Regions from separate parts of the Homo sapiens genome. Here region 2 is linked to region 1. The links come from fine-mapping of genetic effects on gene expression. Tissue or cell type: whole blood. Region 1 holds a variant in brackets; the other region holds the start of a gene. All regions are shown on one strand. Distances are from middle to middle.

The links. PIP is the estimated chance that this variant, and not a neighbour inherited with it, causes the effect.
Region 2: it holds the start of MIA3, and the variant in region 1 is fine-mapped to the expression of MIA3 in whole blood (INTERVAL, PIP above 0.99).

Annotation. Positions count from the first base shown.
Region 1 is chr1:222,576,192-222,584,299 of GRCh38, reverse strand. It overlaps TAF1A (TATA-box binding protein associated factor, RNA polymerase I subunit A), which reads left to right. Exons shown (of 11, transcript NM_005681.4): 3 at 3-172; 4 at 4,428-4,541; 5 at 6,657-6,855. Among named protein-coding and RNA genes, the nearest start is that of TAF1A-AS1, 9.7 kb to the left of the region's middle. RefSeq lists an enhancer at 1,815-1,954. The variant G/A (reference allele first, on the strand shown) is at 4,688.
Region 2 is chr1:222,614,621-222,622,728 of GRCh38, reverse strand. It overlaps MIA3 (MIA SH3 domain ER export factor 3), which reads right to left and starts at 4,632. Exons shown (of 28, transcript NM_198551.4): 1 at 4,486-4,632; 2 at 1,437-1,570. The coding sequence starts at 4,618. RefSeq lists enhancers at 3,592-3,651, 3,932-4,814, silencers at 4,335-4,594, 4,765-4,834 and a cis regulatory region at 5,640-6,222.

The sequences.
Region 1 (8,108 bases):
AGCCATTGGAGGGAAAAGGAGGAAGGATTTTGCTCAGACAACAAGTGCTTGTTTAAGTTTTATCCAAGAAGCTCTGCTGAAGCACCAATGGCAGCAAGCTGCAGAATACATGTACAGTTATTTTCAGACCTTGGAAGATTCAGATAGCTACAAAAGGCAGGCTGCACCTGAGGTAAATAAAATTTGAGTTTGCTGGAAGAAATGATAGATTCCCAGAAGTTTATGCCTACAGCTTCACCTACAGTAGCTTTTACAGAATCTCAGTGATTTTGCTAAAAGCTACTAAAACTACTTTTGAGTGGAGAGTTTGTATTGGGACCTTTTTTGCACACTTCTTTTTACCTCTTATTTTAAAGGGGACTAAAATGTTCATTCCAATAATTCTTCCTTTTCCCCCCTCTTTATGGATGTTTCCCATCATCATGTAAAAATTTTGTTATTCTATCTTTTTTTTTTTTTTTTGAGACGGAGTCTTGCTCTGTCGCCAGGCTGGAGTGAAGTAGCGCGATCTCGGCTCACTGCAATCTCTTACCTCCTGGGTTCAAGTGATTCCCCTGCCTCAGCCTCCTGAGTAGCTGGGACTACAGGCATGTACCACCACGCCCGGCTAATTTTTTGTATTTTGGTAGAGACGGGGTTTCACCAGGTTGGCCAGGACGGTCTCAATCTCTTGACCTCGTGATCCGCCTGCCTCGGCCTCCCAAAGTGCTGGGATTACAGGTGTGAGCCACCATGCCCAGCCTATTCTATCTTAAAATCATCTCTTGACCCAAACTTCCCCCATAGACTATACTTCATTGTTTTACTCTCTTTCAGCAAAACTTCTTGAAAGAGTTGTTCTCTTTTTCCAACTAGAGTGATCCTTTTTTTTTTCGTTTTATCAAGACGTTTTTTATACGCCATCACCCACTTAAATTGTACAATTCAATGTATTTTCATACATTTACAGAGTTGTGCAACCAACCATTACCACACTCTAAATTTAGAACCTTTTTTTTCTCCCATGAAACCAAAACCCTGTACCCACTTGCAGTCCTTCCCCATTCCTCCTCACAGCTGCCGGACACTGGCAGCCACTAATCTATTACTTTCTTTTTCTTTTTTTGTTTTCTTTTGAAACGGAGTCTTGCTCTGTTGCCCAGGCTGGAGTGCAGTGGCATGATCTCTGCTCACTGCAACCTCCAGCTCCTGTGTTCAAGTGATTCTTGTACCTCAGCCTCTTGGGTGGCTGGGATTGCAGGCATGCACCACCACACCTATCTAGTTTTTTGTATTTTTAGTGGAGACTGGGTTTCACTCTGTTGGCCAGGCAGGTCTTGAACTCCTGGCCTCAAGTGATCTGTCCACCTCGGCCTCCCCAAAGTGCTGGTATTGCAAGCGTGAGCCACTATGGCCAGCCTAATCTATTTTCTATTCTGGACATTTCATATAAGTGGTTTTGTACAATATGTGGCCTTTTGTAAATGATTTCTTTCACTTGGCATAATGTTTTCATGGTTTATCCATGTTGTAGCATGTATAAGTACTTCATTACTTTTATTGCCAAATAATCTGTCATATGGAAATACCATGTTTTATTTGTCCATTTATCAGTTGTTAGACACTTAGGTTGTTTTTGCTTTTCGGTTATTGGAAATAATGCTTCTGCGAACATTTGTGTACAGGTTTTTGTGTGGACGTTTGTTTTAATTTCTCCTGGGTCTACACCTGGGAGTGGAATTGCTGGTCATATGGTAACACTATGTTTAGCCTCTTGAGGAACTGCCAGACTGTTTTCCAAAGTGGCCATACCATTTATATTCTCACCAGCAATATCTGAGGCTTCTAATTTCTCTAATCCTTGCCAATATTTTGTTATTGTCCTGTCTTACTGATAATAGTCATCCTTGTGGTTGTGAAGTGGCATCATCCTGGTTATGATTTGCATTTCTCTAATGACTAATGATTCAGAGTGAGCTTTTTAAAACATATCAGATCATGTCACTCCTCTGCTGAAAACACTGTAATAGCTTTCCATTTCATTCAGTAAAAGCCAAAGTCATAATTGCCTATAAATTCCTATGTGATGTGCTCACTTCCTTTCCTTGTTTGACCTCTCTGACTTCATCTCCTGAAACAGGTGGAGCATTCCGAATTCAAAAATGTGAAAACCAGAATGCTTCAAAGCTTTTTCATTACTGACATGAGATAGTGACACCTTTGCTTTCTAATGGTTCAATGTATACAAATTTTGTTTCATGCACAAAATTTTAAGAATATTATATAAAATTACCTTCAGGCTATATGTATAGGTGTATATGAAACATAAGTGAATTTCATGTTTAGCCTTTGGTCCTATCCCCAGTCTCATTATGTATATACAAATATTTAAAAAGCGGAAACAATTTCAAGTCTGAAACATTTCTGGTCCCAACGATTTCAGATAAGGGATACTCAACCTGTATTATCCTGCTTGTTTTTTCTTTTCCATCCTCACTGGTCTCCTTGTTCTTACTTGAATGGGCCAGGCATATTCCTGACTGATTGCCTTTGCCTTAACCAGTTCTTGGAAAGCTCTTTCTTCAGCTATCACTGCAGCTACCCTCCTTCAAGGCCCCTTTTCATTGAGGCCTACTTTGACTATTTAAAATTGCAATTGCCTTACTCCAACTGCAACCTGCACTTTCTGAATGGCACTCCTGATCTCCTTGTCCTGCTGCATTCTTTTCCTCTAACAGTTGACAATTTAATTATATTTCTTGGTTATTGTTTGTCTCTCTACATAGAATGTAAATTTCACAGGGCAGGGTTAAAACAGTGCCTGGCATATACTGCTAAATTTCTTCAGTAAAAGACAGTTTACCCACAAATAACTTGACATGAGTGTCTCATAGGTTTTACTAACACAGTCACCATTGCATCAATTAGTTATCTTCTAGAGCAAAAAAAATAAAAAAGAGAAGCTGAAAAAAAAGTTTAACCATTCATTGAAAATTTAATTTATGGACTTAAGTTACATACTCCTGTAAAACATTGAACATGTTACAGCCTCTTGTTGTCCAGATTTTGTTTTGTAAAATGAAGGAATTGGATCAGTGGTTTTTGAGCACTTCTTTGGCTCTCTTTGGATCACCTAGGGCTTTCATTCAAAGTATAAATTCCTTTACTCCACCCCTGTCTATTGAGTCAGAGTATCTTTTATTTGTATTTTTTTATTTTTTGAGATGGAGTCTCACTCACTTTGTCACCCAGGCTGGAGTGCAGTGGCACGATCTTGGCTCGCTGCAAGCTCCGCCTCCCGCCACGACGCCTGGCTAATTTTTTGTATTTTTAGTAGAGACGGGGTTTCACCGTGTTAGCCAGGATGGTCTCACTCTCCTGACCTCGTGATCCACCCGCCTCGGCCTCCCAAAATCCTGGGATTACAGGTGTGAGCCACCGCGCCTGGCCCAGAATACCTATTTTTAACTGGTGTCCCATGTAATTACTGTGTACACTGGTGGTGAGAATAGCTATCATAATCTCAAAGTTTTCTTTTTTTTTTTTTTCCTGCTTTTCTTCCCCCCCTGCATTTACCCATCCCTGGTGGTAGGTGATCCAAGACCCAGGTTTTCTTTAAGCTCCCAAATACTACAGTGTGATATTCTACAAATGAAATCTTGATATCTCTGAGTTGGGAAGATGAGGATCCTTATATCAAATGATAATATGTGTATCATATATAACTATAGCAGTGATAGTGTGTGTATCCACATATAACCAATATGTATGTTCATAGAAATAATTGATTTACAGTTCAGTTTAATTTACTTTGAAGTTGGTATTATTGATTACTTTAAATTGAGGTTAGCGAAATAGAGATTTGCTCTCATGAAAAAAGAGCTCCAAGTTCTGCCGCCAAAGTTTTGGTGATCTGAGGATAAAATATTTTTTTATTAAGATTTGTCCATAGCTAATCAAAATTCTTAAATTGGCATTCTAAATATAGAATAAATGTAGTCAATAGTTGTAGAATTTGATGGGCTCTCAGGAAATGTGTAGTTTGTTGCCCTCATTTTGCAGATGATGAAGAAGAGGCTGAGACCAATGAAGAAGCCAATATTATTAGAACCCAAATTTTCTGACTTTAATATTCTTCCTTCCATACCAATTAAACATTTTATATTAAATATGTATCTTAACTGTCTACTTTCTTTAAACTACTAAATTAATAATGATGCTATTATACTATCTGATATTTTAATAGAAATTTGAAAGGTTAAAACTATTCTATCACATAAGGAAGTAGTATTAATTTTACATGGCAAAGTAGAGTAAAATGTTGACGGTAGTGGTCTCTGGAAAAGGAATCACAGGTTATTAATGTTGTAATCAGGAAAACAATATCTTAGACAGAAATTGGTTAAGGCAAAAATTTTACATTTTGGCAGTAATTTCTGCTTTGACAGATTATTTGGAAGCTCGGAAGTGAAATTCTATTTTATCATCCCAAAAGCAACATGGAGAGTTTCAATACTTTTGCTAACCGGATGAAAAATATTGGCGTCATGAATTATTTAAAGGTGAGAATATGGGCTTTGTGAATTTACACTTGCAGTATTCTTTTTTTTTTCTAATTGCTTGTGTCAGTGATAAGGTAGTTAACCTAAAAAATGTGGGACAAGGATAAGACATTCTGGATAAATAAGAGAAACTGAAAGAAAAGAGC[G/A]TTATGAGAACCATTTACTTCTTGATTTTCAGGCGCCTCCTGTGTTCTCTGACTAAAAATTCCTTTTCTTTGTATATTTCTTCTGGCTGCCAAAACCAGTTATTCAGAGATTGCAGTGGTATGATGATGGGCCAGATTCTAAAATGTTTGCTGAAGTCACTTGAGCTTAGAGTTGGTGTTTAGAAAAGGAAAGAGCTAAACAAGTTGGGAATTTAAATACGTGAAAATATTTTAATACTTCTAATGTTTAGGTGGAATCTTCACCTCCAAGTTCATATATCCTTTTGTAAAAGTCTTATCCAAAAAGATTGAGACATTTTCAAAATATTGTATCTCCCTCTCTATGTTTTTGTCTCAAAGAGCACTTTTTCAATACAGGTTTGTAAATGCTTTGCTTTAAAAAAATGTTTTGAGTGTCTATTTGTGTGCCAGATGCTCTTACGATTTTGTTCTCTGGTAGACCAGGTATACTGTGAGTGGAAATTAAATGGGGGCAGTTTACGGTTCTACTTAAGAAAAAGCTTTCTAACTAAACAATTGGAAATGGGAATGGCCTACCCTGATGTGTGCTCTGCGTCTCTTTTTTCAGGTCTAAACTGGATAGCCATTTAATTAGGGAGGGAGTGTGAAGAGTAAACTGTTGGTTAGGTCCCTTTTGGCTCATAGAATCTACTCAGTTGAAGTAAAGAAACTGAAAGGGAACCTCATTTCTCAATAAGAGTCTGAGAGTGATAATTAGGATAGATAATACAATTTTTTTTGTTGTTAATAATTTTAAAAACACTTATTGCCGCTTACCAGGCAATATGCTAGACATGGTTCTTATAGTAGAGGAAGATCATGTAAATGGAATGAAGTGTTATGGGTACCATAGTAGAAATGTAACAAATGGTGAGAAGATAAAGGAGAAAATGGCCAGTTCTCTGGAACTAGAGAGGGTTGGGATTTAATGGGTAGGGGAATCAGGAAAAGAATGAAAGTGATACTTGAGATAAGTTTGCAAAAGCAATTGGCCATTCACTAGGCAGATTAGGGGAAAGGGCAGCCCTGCATGGCGGGGGTTATAAAGAGTTTAAAAGCCCTACATCCAATAATTTAGTTACTCTAAAAATCACTTGGGTAGAAGTTGGGGGAAGTAGGCTGGGCCCTGTGTGCCATACCCAGGGAACTTGGATTTTAATTCTGTAGTCAGTGGGAGCCATTGAAGGAGTTTATGCAAATGACTAACAAGATGAAATTTCTTTGGTAGCCACTTGAAAGATGGATTGTAGGGAGGCAGGAATGGAGAGGCCAGTTGACAACTTATTGCAGTACTTTGGCTCTACCCATATGATTAATTGTAGTTCTCATTATTCTCCTCTTTAATGTCTTCCCTTTTTGTAATACTCATTCTTTGTATAATTTTTCTTCCTGCTTCTCCTGTATCAGGGATACACTTTCCTCTCCATCTGAACTGAAGCCATTCTTCAGCATCCCTTATTAAGATATTTTCTCTAAGCTTATATAACATGTATAAAATAGTAATATTTGTTGAATGTCTGCTATGAGCCAAACTATTAGGTGATTTGCAAGTATTATCTCATTTAATCTTGAAAACACCCTTCTGAAGGGGCAGTAATGTTCCGTAAAACAAATGAGACTCACAAAGAGTGAATAATTTACCCAGGTTTATTTAGTTTTTAAGTGGTGTATGAACCAAGACACTCATCTTCAAAACCTCTTTTTTCCCCACTATATCACACTGTCTTTTGTTTGTAAGTTTACATAATTTAGCTCATATTTACATAGTGTTAATTGTTTCCTATGTCTTACTTCTTTGCCAGATTGTACCCAACATCAAAATTTTCCATGTCAAGTTATTTGTATCCTACCAAGGTCTTTGCCCAGCATGTATTATATATTTACTGAGCTTTTTGACTAATGGTTATCTAATGGCTTAAATGGCGGTGTACCCTTATTATTTTTGCAGATCTCCTTACAACATGCATTATACCTTCTGCATCATGGAATGCTTAAAGATGCTAAGAGAAATCTGAGTGAGGCAGAGACATGGAGACATGGTGAAAATACGTCTTCCCGGGAAATATTAATCAACCTTATTCAGGCCTATAAAGGGCTTTTACAGTATTATACCTGGTCTGAAAAGAAGATGGAATTGTCAAAGCTTGGTAAGTGAATACAGGTAAACTTTTTCTTATGATGAGACTGAGGGGCAGAGGGATCTTAAGGAGTAATCTAGTAATTTCCCTATTGACTTCATCCAGATATTATGGAGAACAGACTTTTTATGGATTTAAAATTCTTGATCCTTTATAATATTTCTGATATATAAAAAGCTTCAATCATAAATTAGATGGTTCATAATTAAGTTCATGATCATTTTAGGTTCATTGCTGTTTTGAATGTGATTTAGTCCAGGATAAACACAGCCAGACACAGCAGTGGAGACAGGTTTGATTCAGTAACTACTGACAGGAGGAAGAGCTAAACTCCATTCCAATTTCTATGGAGGTGACTTGGGGTTGTAAAGGGTGGGGGTGGGGAGCTTAAAAAGCAGAAGGCAGAACCACCAGTAAATTCTTCTGGAGTTTTCCCAGGCAAACATTTCAAGAGGGGCTGGGGTCATCCTGGGGATGTGGCCTTGAGCTGTTAGAAACTATGTTAGTGTTCTAGAAACTATGTTCAAGTATTTATTGGCCAAGTTTGAGGCCTAGTCCAGAAGAGAGCTCAGAGGAGCCTGGCTGGAGTTTGGTCAAGAAGAAAGTCTTTGCCAATTTCTAAGAAAGGCTACAGATTTTCTTCAGCAGTCATTATTACATATAATAAACATTTCTTCCTGTGTGCCTAGAATGGAGTTTAATTTACTTTGTAATGTTATTTCTCAGAATAATATGTTTAAAGAATAGGTCAAGATGGTCATTTCATTTTTGTGTAAAGGTTATAATGGACAATTTTCTTGATTTATTGACTATACCAGAAGTTGACCATTCAGTTCTCAAACTGATTCCCCTTCTCTTAACCTTCAATGGTGTTATCATCTTCATTTATGCCCAGATTTGCATTCACTGGAACTGTATGATTCTTTGCAATTCGCTTGCCTTGTATAGTTTCTCCGTAGGGGATAATCCTCGAGATTAACCTAATCTCTATGATTAACCCCTTTCTGTTTTCATCCTCCTCCATATCTTAGTCCTACTATTTATCACTTCTTATGTGGTAAGCAGTATTTCCTTATTATCCTTATGTGATAAGTGGTATTTCCTTGGTCTCTGGGCATGTAGTTTCACTAATTTCGATTCCCTTCCCTCTTCTTTCAAGATACTCTGAAATGCTCTCTTCATCATGATAATCTTGTGAGGCCTTTGTAGAGTCTCCTCTTCTAGAATGCTCTCTATTCTTCAAGACTCATTGGATCGCTGTC
Region 2 (8,108 bases), 38 kb before region 1:
CTTTTCTATGAAAAAACGCAGCCTAGGTACATGGAAAAACATTTCCAAGAGTAAAGATTATCAACAAATCTCATTAGGTAGACTTGAAGGAAATAGAATAGATTTGTTTTGGTATGGAGCAAGTCACTTGGGATGCTCTCTAAATAGGAGAGCTGAACCTGACCAGTTGTTGTTTCCCAAGATTACTCCCTAGGAACCTGGAATGCCAACAAAATCAGTCTATTTTCCCCAAGGGGATTTCTCAAGCCTTATTTTCTCTTTGTTTGTTTGGTGTTTTACTGACAGTGAAAACTTTCATAGTCGGGATGGGTATTTCTCTAAGTTGGGACAATCCTAAAGATATCGAGGACCCTTACTACTTGAAGTAAAGACACAGTCCACATATCACGCTTTCTAAAAAGGAAAGGACAATAACTCATAAGACAGGCCTCTCAATCAGGTCACTCCCAGTGAATCTCCTCATTAAAAATACCAAAGCATGATGCAGTCATTGATTGCCAGGTCTGATAGCAGGGTACCCATAAAATCAGCTGGGAATCAATCCCCTGGGGTAACCTCCAGACACAAGTGTCTGAAAAGCAGGACAAGGATGACCCCAAGGCTGCAAACAAAAATACAAACAAGAGGCTGGTTGCGGTGGCTCACGCCTGTAATCCCAGCACTTTGGGAGGTCAAGGTGGGTGGATCACAAGGTCAGGAGATCGAGACCTAGCTAACACAGTGAAACCCCGTCTCTACTAAAAAAATACAAAAAATTAGCCGTGTGGTGGCAGGCACCTGCAGCCCCAGCTACTCGGGAGGCTGAGGCAGGAGAATGGCGTGAACCCGGGAGGCGGAGCTTGCAGTGAGCCGAGATCGCGCCACGGCACTCCAGCCTGGGCGACAGAGCAAGACTCCGCCTCAAAAAAAAAAAAACAAACAAACAAGAAAGCACACGAGAAACAACATTTTGCTTTTTTACAGACTTATAATAGCACAGATGATTAGGGAACTGTTCCCAAGACTGCCACTTTTTCATAAATAATAATATAAACAAAGAAATACACATAAAATCAACTTTAAGCTTACATGCCTGAAACACTCTCTCACATATAGTTTACAGGAGTAAGTCTAATTCCTATGAATACTTCCTTTTTAAAGCAATGAAGTATTTTTCAGCTCTTACCATTTCAACCTCTAATACGTATGCAGCATCCTAGAGGTTGACCCTGAGGGGAACTTGCCAGAATCAGTTCTATTTCAGAAGGCTCTGCTGAGCCCCTACTCTGTGCAGACCCAAGGCCTGCTGGGGACACAGGGCCATCTTTTTTCACAGTCAGGCAGAGAGGACAAGTTAACTCCATCAAAGGTCCCAAGAAAATGCAGTCATTTAACTCTACAGTGCTAAAGAAGCCAATAAAAATTAAGCAAATAAAGTATGTCGATATTTTACTTACACTTCCAGCCCAAACTTCAGGCCATCCTCTTGCCAGTTTATAGTAAACATATACAGGATCACCTTTTTTAAAATTCACAAAACGACAATCCGGGCCTGTGAAATCTTCAAGAGCCTCACCGCGGTACATTAACACTGTATATAAAGAGAGAGAAAAAAAATAGCCAGATATCAGGATTCAGTGTTCACAGTGCATATTGATTTATCAGGAAATATAAGAATCCCACTATAAACAACAACCAAGTTTTTCCAGTACTCTCTGGAATTTCTTTCATATGCTCAAAGTATCTCAAATCCTTTGAGCTTTACTGCTATAAATCATACCTTCTGCAAGCAGACAAGGGAAAGGAAAACCTTCTCTATTTTTCTCTATGGATAATACTGAGAAACAAAAAGCAATGTGCCAACTACCACACATGGCTTTTCTCACCCAAGTGAAACTCTCGATTCCCTCTCTAACCTTCTAGTCCTCAATCTTTTCTGTTTCATATTCATAAAAAGCTTCCTTTTGCAAATGGGTAAATTCAAGCCCAGATGATGATTAACTTAAGCATGGCTACATGAACGGGTAATAGGGAACTAGAGTACCCAGGAACCCCCAAGAGGTCAATTAACTTGAACTAACCACTAAAAGGGTCTATCTTCAAGTGACTGTAACCAGTACTATGTAGCAGTAAACACTGTCAATTTCATTTGCAGCCAAGTTGTTCCCTTAGTACAGTGTCTGGATAAATTAATGGGAAAAGATATCTATCACACCCTACTATAGATTCAATTACATCACAAGGCAATATTTTCTGAAAGTAAATAATGTTGACTGTATCCAAAATTAAGTTTCAAAACAAAGGAAAGAATACCCTTATGTATATTTTTCTATAAACAAAATCAAAAGTCGACATCTCATTTGGCTGGGACTAAGCAAAACTATGAGAATAGGTCAGTAATTCAATCACGCTTGATCTAGAAACTGGCTGAAGCAGTACTTTTATTTTTGTTGACCACATACACAGTTTCCCATGTAAGATGAAATGGACAATAAATACATCTAAATAGCAGAGACAAAGAAGGACGAATAGAAATAAGATTTTTTCCAAAAGCCAATTTGCAATAAAATACATTAAAAACGTGCCTTTAAATGGCTATACACGCATATAGATTTGGAAGGGGCTACTTGTTTTTTGAAGCTAAACTCTGATTACTTTCCAACATGTCAGCTTTGTAGCTCAGATATAATTGAGTGTGAGGCCAGGTTTAAGATGATGGACAATTTAAGGTTGGGAATAAGATCAGAATTGAAAATGGCAATGTTTCTTTTGCTCCCCCTTACAATAGATCATAGAGGATTTATAATAATATTTGAGATGCCAACAAAATGCACCCTGTGGAACAGCTATTTGAAAACCACACAAGGGCACCGTACATACTCACATTACTAAACACTTTCTACAACACAACACAGACCCATCTAGACCTTGCTCCTGTTGATGCCTATTGTATTTGGTTTCCTCTGAACACGTACCATTTCTCAAGTTATGTTACAACCGTGAGCTCTTCTAACATCATGCCTCAGTACTGAAGAAGCATCAGTGATGTGATGATTCTCCAGGTAACCTGTTTTGAGGAACCCAGGCAGGGCAATGCTTGCAAGCAAAGAATACCAACTATCTTGCCATTGCCAACGGCAAATGGGTAACAGCGTGGCTTTGACCCAAGAAAACTAAAGGGAAAAATCATGGCAGTTGTACCGCTTTTGTAGTGTTTATTTACATCAACCACAGGGTTATCTCTAGGAATGGCTTCACACTCATTAGAGATCTCTTTTCTTGATTAGTGTTGTAGAGATACAAACAGTTCATATTATGAAATTCGGTTTTGATAACATCAATTTGAATATAAATAGCTAAACCATAGAGTTCTTGGCCTTCTTAAAATGAATACGTTTCTATAGGCATTGCTTAACAGTGTATGAAAAACCGTTTCTGCAGTGGCTATCAGTAAGTTACAAGGTTGAGACGGTCTGGGAGGCCCTAAAATGATCCTGGTCCGGCGAACATAGAGGGAAGAGGTTTCAACACGCAAGCGGCTAAGGCTAAACCAAGCTTGGCTTATGAGACCCTTGGAGTATTTACTGTCATTCCTGTAATAACCTTCTTCATCTGAGCCTGAAGATCTGTGCCCTCTCCACCGCCCACCTCCAATCCCAGACTGGAGAGCAATTCCGCTTCCTGCGCACAGAAGAGGAGGCTGCCGGTCCCAGGTGGCCGGTGCAGATCCTCGGTCTCTGCAGAGCGAAAGATTTTGGTCTTCCTGCAGTCCTGCCTAGCAGTCTGCAAGGCGGCTTCCAAGCACAGAAACGACAGGATTGATCAAAGTCGGGGCAGAGACCTCGGAATACAATGAGTGCTTGGACTCCAGACTCGTCCCAAACCTAAACTCCCAATTCCTGTTCAAAAGGCGGTACAAGCCCAAATCCCAATAAAGCAGAAGGGCAAAGGAGCAGCGCCAGGGAGCCTTTCCAAACAAACCCCACCATCAACCTGCCACTGGGAAAACGCCCACCGAGCCCTTAGCGCATCTGCCGGGGTGATGCACCCACCGAGGTCCCCGCAGCGCGGGCAGGAAAGCTTTGGTTGCGGCGTGGGGAGCCCAGACGCGCGGCGCGCAACCACATCTACCCTCCGAGCCCAGGCGGATTGGGGGGGTGGGAAGGGGACGCTGTGAGCCACTATTGGGGAAGCCGGGGACCACCGCAAGCAACCCCCCGCCTCAGCAGAGGAAAAATAAAACGCTGGCAACAAGTGGGAGGTGCAGCCCCCATGGTCAGGCCCGAGGGGCCGGGCGCAGGCAGAGCGGGAGAAGGCAGACACAGGGACCCGGAGCGCGCCCACCCCCGCGTTCAGCCCATCCCGCCTGCGACCCCCGGGCCGGCCAGGGGCTGCGGAACTCCCGTCCCCGCACAGCCCAGGCGGCGCCGCCGCGGAGACCCCCGGGGCCGGCGGAGACCCCAAGGCCAGCCGCCCCGAGGCCAGCCGCCCCTCCAGCGCACTCACTGCTGCATTCGTCGTCCGCGCAGAGTTTGTGCTCCGAGAACCGCCGGCCAGTGCTGGGGTCCAGCTGGCCCGGCACCCGCCAGGGCAGCCGGAGCACGAGCAGCCAGACGAGCAGCCCAGGCGCCGCAGCCATGTTGTGGTCACCTCGGGGAGCCGGTGACGCGGAGGAGGAGGCCGGGGCGGGCGCAGAGGGGCGGGACGGGGGCGGGGACGGGGCGGGGACGGGGGGGCTGGGGCGGGGGCTGGGGCGGGGACGGGGCGGGGACGGGGGCGGGGACGGGGGCGGGGGCGGGGGCGGGGACGGGGCGGGGACGGGGGCAGGGACGGGGGCAGGGACGGGGGCAGGGACGCGGGCAGGGACCAGGCGGAGCGCCGGGGGCATGTGGGAAGACAAGCGCAGAGGGGCGGCGCCCGCGAAGGTCTGAGCAGTTTCCGACTGACACGTCAGCAGAGGCTCTAGGAGGGATGCGGGAGACCTCCAGGAGGAGGACTGACAGCAGCCTCCTCCTCTCCTCGAAGCCTTCTCCTCTGGTCGCTGCCGTGGCAACCAGGACTCCCTCGCCCAATCACCTGCCTTTGCCCCAGTCCCTCGCAGCACCTCCGCGTGACTCCATTCTTAGTTCACCCCTCCCCGCGCGCTTGGGTCCCCCAACCCTGCGCCATCTCAACAGGTCCCTTCTGGCGCCTTCTCGCAGTTTCTGGTTTGTGGCCTGTCCCGAACCAGCCCCCCACTTCACCCCGCTACTTCACCCCGCTACCCCCACTCTTGGCATGGTACCTCCTTTTCTGAACTGCCAAATCCCACCCGCGATTTGCCACTGTTAGTCTCTGGTTTCAGGCTCCCTCCTTTTCAGCCTCCCAGGGCTTCCTTGGGGGCACCATCCCGTGGTGCTCTTTGATTAAGAAAGGGGGAGGTGAGTGGAATAGGGGGCTGAGGATATAAATCAGAGCCCGTGGCCTGCTTGGTCGTTGATAGAAATGGGTAATGGTCCTTGGGCTGAGATCTTGAGATTCCTAGATCTATATCCATAGGAAAAAAGTAAATTAATTTAATAACAGTGTGATGAGCTTCCATTTTATACTTATTTCATGCCAGAATTAAGATTAATCTTCACAACAATCGCACCTTAGAGTAGTAGGTCCTATTATGATCCCCATTTCAGAGATGACTACCTTAAGGCATTCAAACACCTAGTGAGTGATGGAGCTAAGATTCAAACCCAGGTAGTATGCTCCTTTTTAATCACAGCTCTGTAAAGCCTCCATCAAGCAACAAGCAATTTTTGTACTTTCTTTCTGAGCAGGGAAGCAAAATCTTATTTAAATCATACTATAACTGGATGATTTATATGTGCAGTTAAAAAAGCGGGGGACTGCATGAGCAGGTCAGCCCAGAGAAGAGTGGCTACAATGCTCTCCAGAAGAGTGGCTACAATGCTCTCCAGCCCTGGTTGAAGAACTTGGCATCTGTCTGTGACCAGCAGCTTCTCATTGCAATCTCTAAGGTTACTCATCAACCTTGAACAACAAACCCAGCAGCTGGTTTCCCAAACAAATCGTATTACTTAAAAGCAAGAAGAAAGAATGTGGCTTGTCTGTGCAATCCATTATATCGAATAAGGAAAAAACGGTAAACAGATGCTCACAAATTTTTGTCTGTAGGAGCCGTGAGAGTTCCTACTGGGCCAATGTAATTCCAATGCTGTCTTGAGAAATATACATTTGGTAAGGTCACGGACAAGCACTTTCTATCCAAGTAGTAGTTCTGTTCATTCTTCATTTCTTTTCTACTGTGTATTTATTTGTTTTAATATCTTAGATGTGTCTAATAGGCATCTCTAACAATATGTTGAAAACCAAACTCTTTATCTTTTTCTCTCAAACTCTGCTCCTTTCGGTCTTCCCTATTTGAGGAATAGGAATGACAATTTAATTCCTATCTTCTAGGTGCTTAAGCCAAAAACATACAAACCATCCTCGACCTCTTTTTTCTCACACCCAAGTCCAATCCATCAGACAATCCCATGTCTTTTTTAATAGCTTTGTTGAAGTATAATTAACCTACAATAAATTGCACATGTTTAAAGTGTACAATGATAATTTTTGACATATGTCTACACCCATGAGACCATTACCACAATGAAGTTAATTAACATATTCATCAACATCACCTCTGAAAGAGTTCTCATGATCCTTTATAATCCCTCCCTCCCTTGTCCCAGCTGTCTTCAGACAACCTTCTGTCACTGCAGATTGGTTTGCATTTTCTAGAATTTGATATAAATGGAATAATATCGTATACATTCTTTTTTTGTCTGACTCTTTCACTCAGCATAAACATTTGAAATACATTCAGAATCTGACCACTTCTCCCCATCTCCAGTGCCAGCAGTGCAGGCCAGGCCACCCATCTCTCACCTGAATAACTGCAATAGCCTTGTCATGTTCTTGCTTCTGCTCTTGCCCTTCCAAAGTCATAGTCTCAATAGTAGCTAAAGCAATTGTTTTATGAAATAAATGTGGTCATGCCTCTCCCCTGCTCATAACCTTCCCATGGCTTCCCATTTCCAAGTAAAATGCAATTACTTTTTTATGGAGTACACTGTCTTATTTAATTTTACTCCTCTGCCCTTTTACCCTCATTTCCTAACACTCCTCCCTTGCTCTGTTGGTTCCACTCAGATACACCAAGCCTAATCCTGCATTCGTGTATCTGCACTTGCAATTTTCCGTCAGCCTGGAATAATTCCCCAAATAGTCTGCCTGGCTAACTAGTTTCCTCACTTCATCGTGTCTCTGTAACAGTGCCATATCTTACAAGTGAGGCCTTCCCTGATACCCCTACGTAAAACAGAACTCCTTCTCATGACTAGCTGGCTCATCACTGTGCTTTATTTTTCTTTAGAGCGTTTACCACCTGCCTTATGTTTATCTACTTTACTGCCACCCAACCTCCAATATAAGCTCCATGGAAGCAGCGGATTTGTCTGTTTTGTTCACTGCTGTAATATCAGTGCCTAGAACAATGTCTGGAATATATAAGGTACTCAACAAATGATTTGTTGAATAAACCCACAGATCTTCACACATTATAAATATATTATGCTATTAACCTAAATAAAGCCTCCATAAAATGAATAGTACCAAAAGGGAATATACCATGAAAACAAGGCATTTGGTGTCTTCCCCTCAGTAGCATCCTTACCGCCAAGGACAGAACCTGAAATGTATTTACTGTTGAATGAGGGTGTATTTGTTGCAGAGGGAGTGGATGAAATAGCATGTATTTTTTCCCAATATACTACCAGAATATTAAAGCAGATTTAAAACATGATTTTATCTTATTTCTCCTTAGATTAGAATTAATAACAATTAATTGATGAAAAAAACAAAACTCCAACATGATCTAATCGAATATTATTACTTTACAAAGTGAATAATATTCACTTTGACTAATATTTACAAAAGCTTTTACATGAAAGGTCAGAGCTCTCTGTTACTGAAGAACTAGCTACTTAAGTGTGTAGATTTTATAGGGTTTTGATTTATTTACATTTTTGAAAAAATCATTTTCTTAAAAAGATATTGACAAGCCTGGTGGATAATTAGAAGACAGTTCTCAG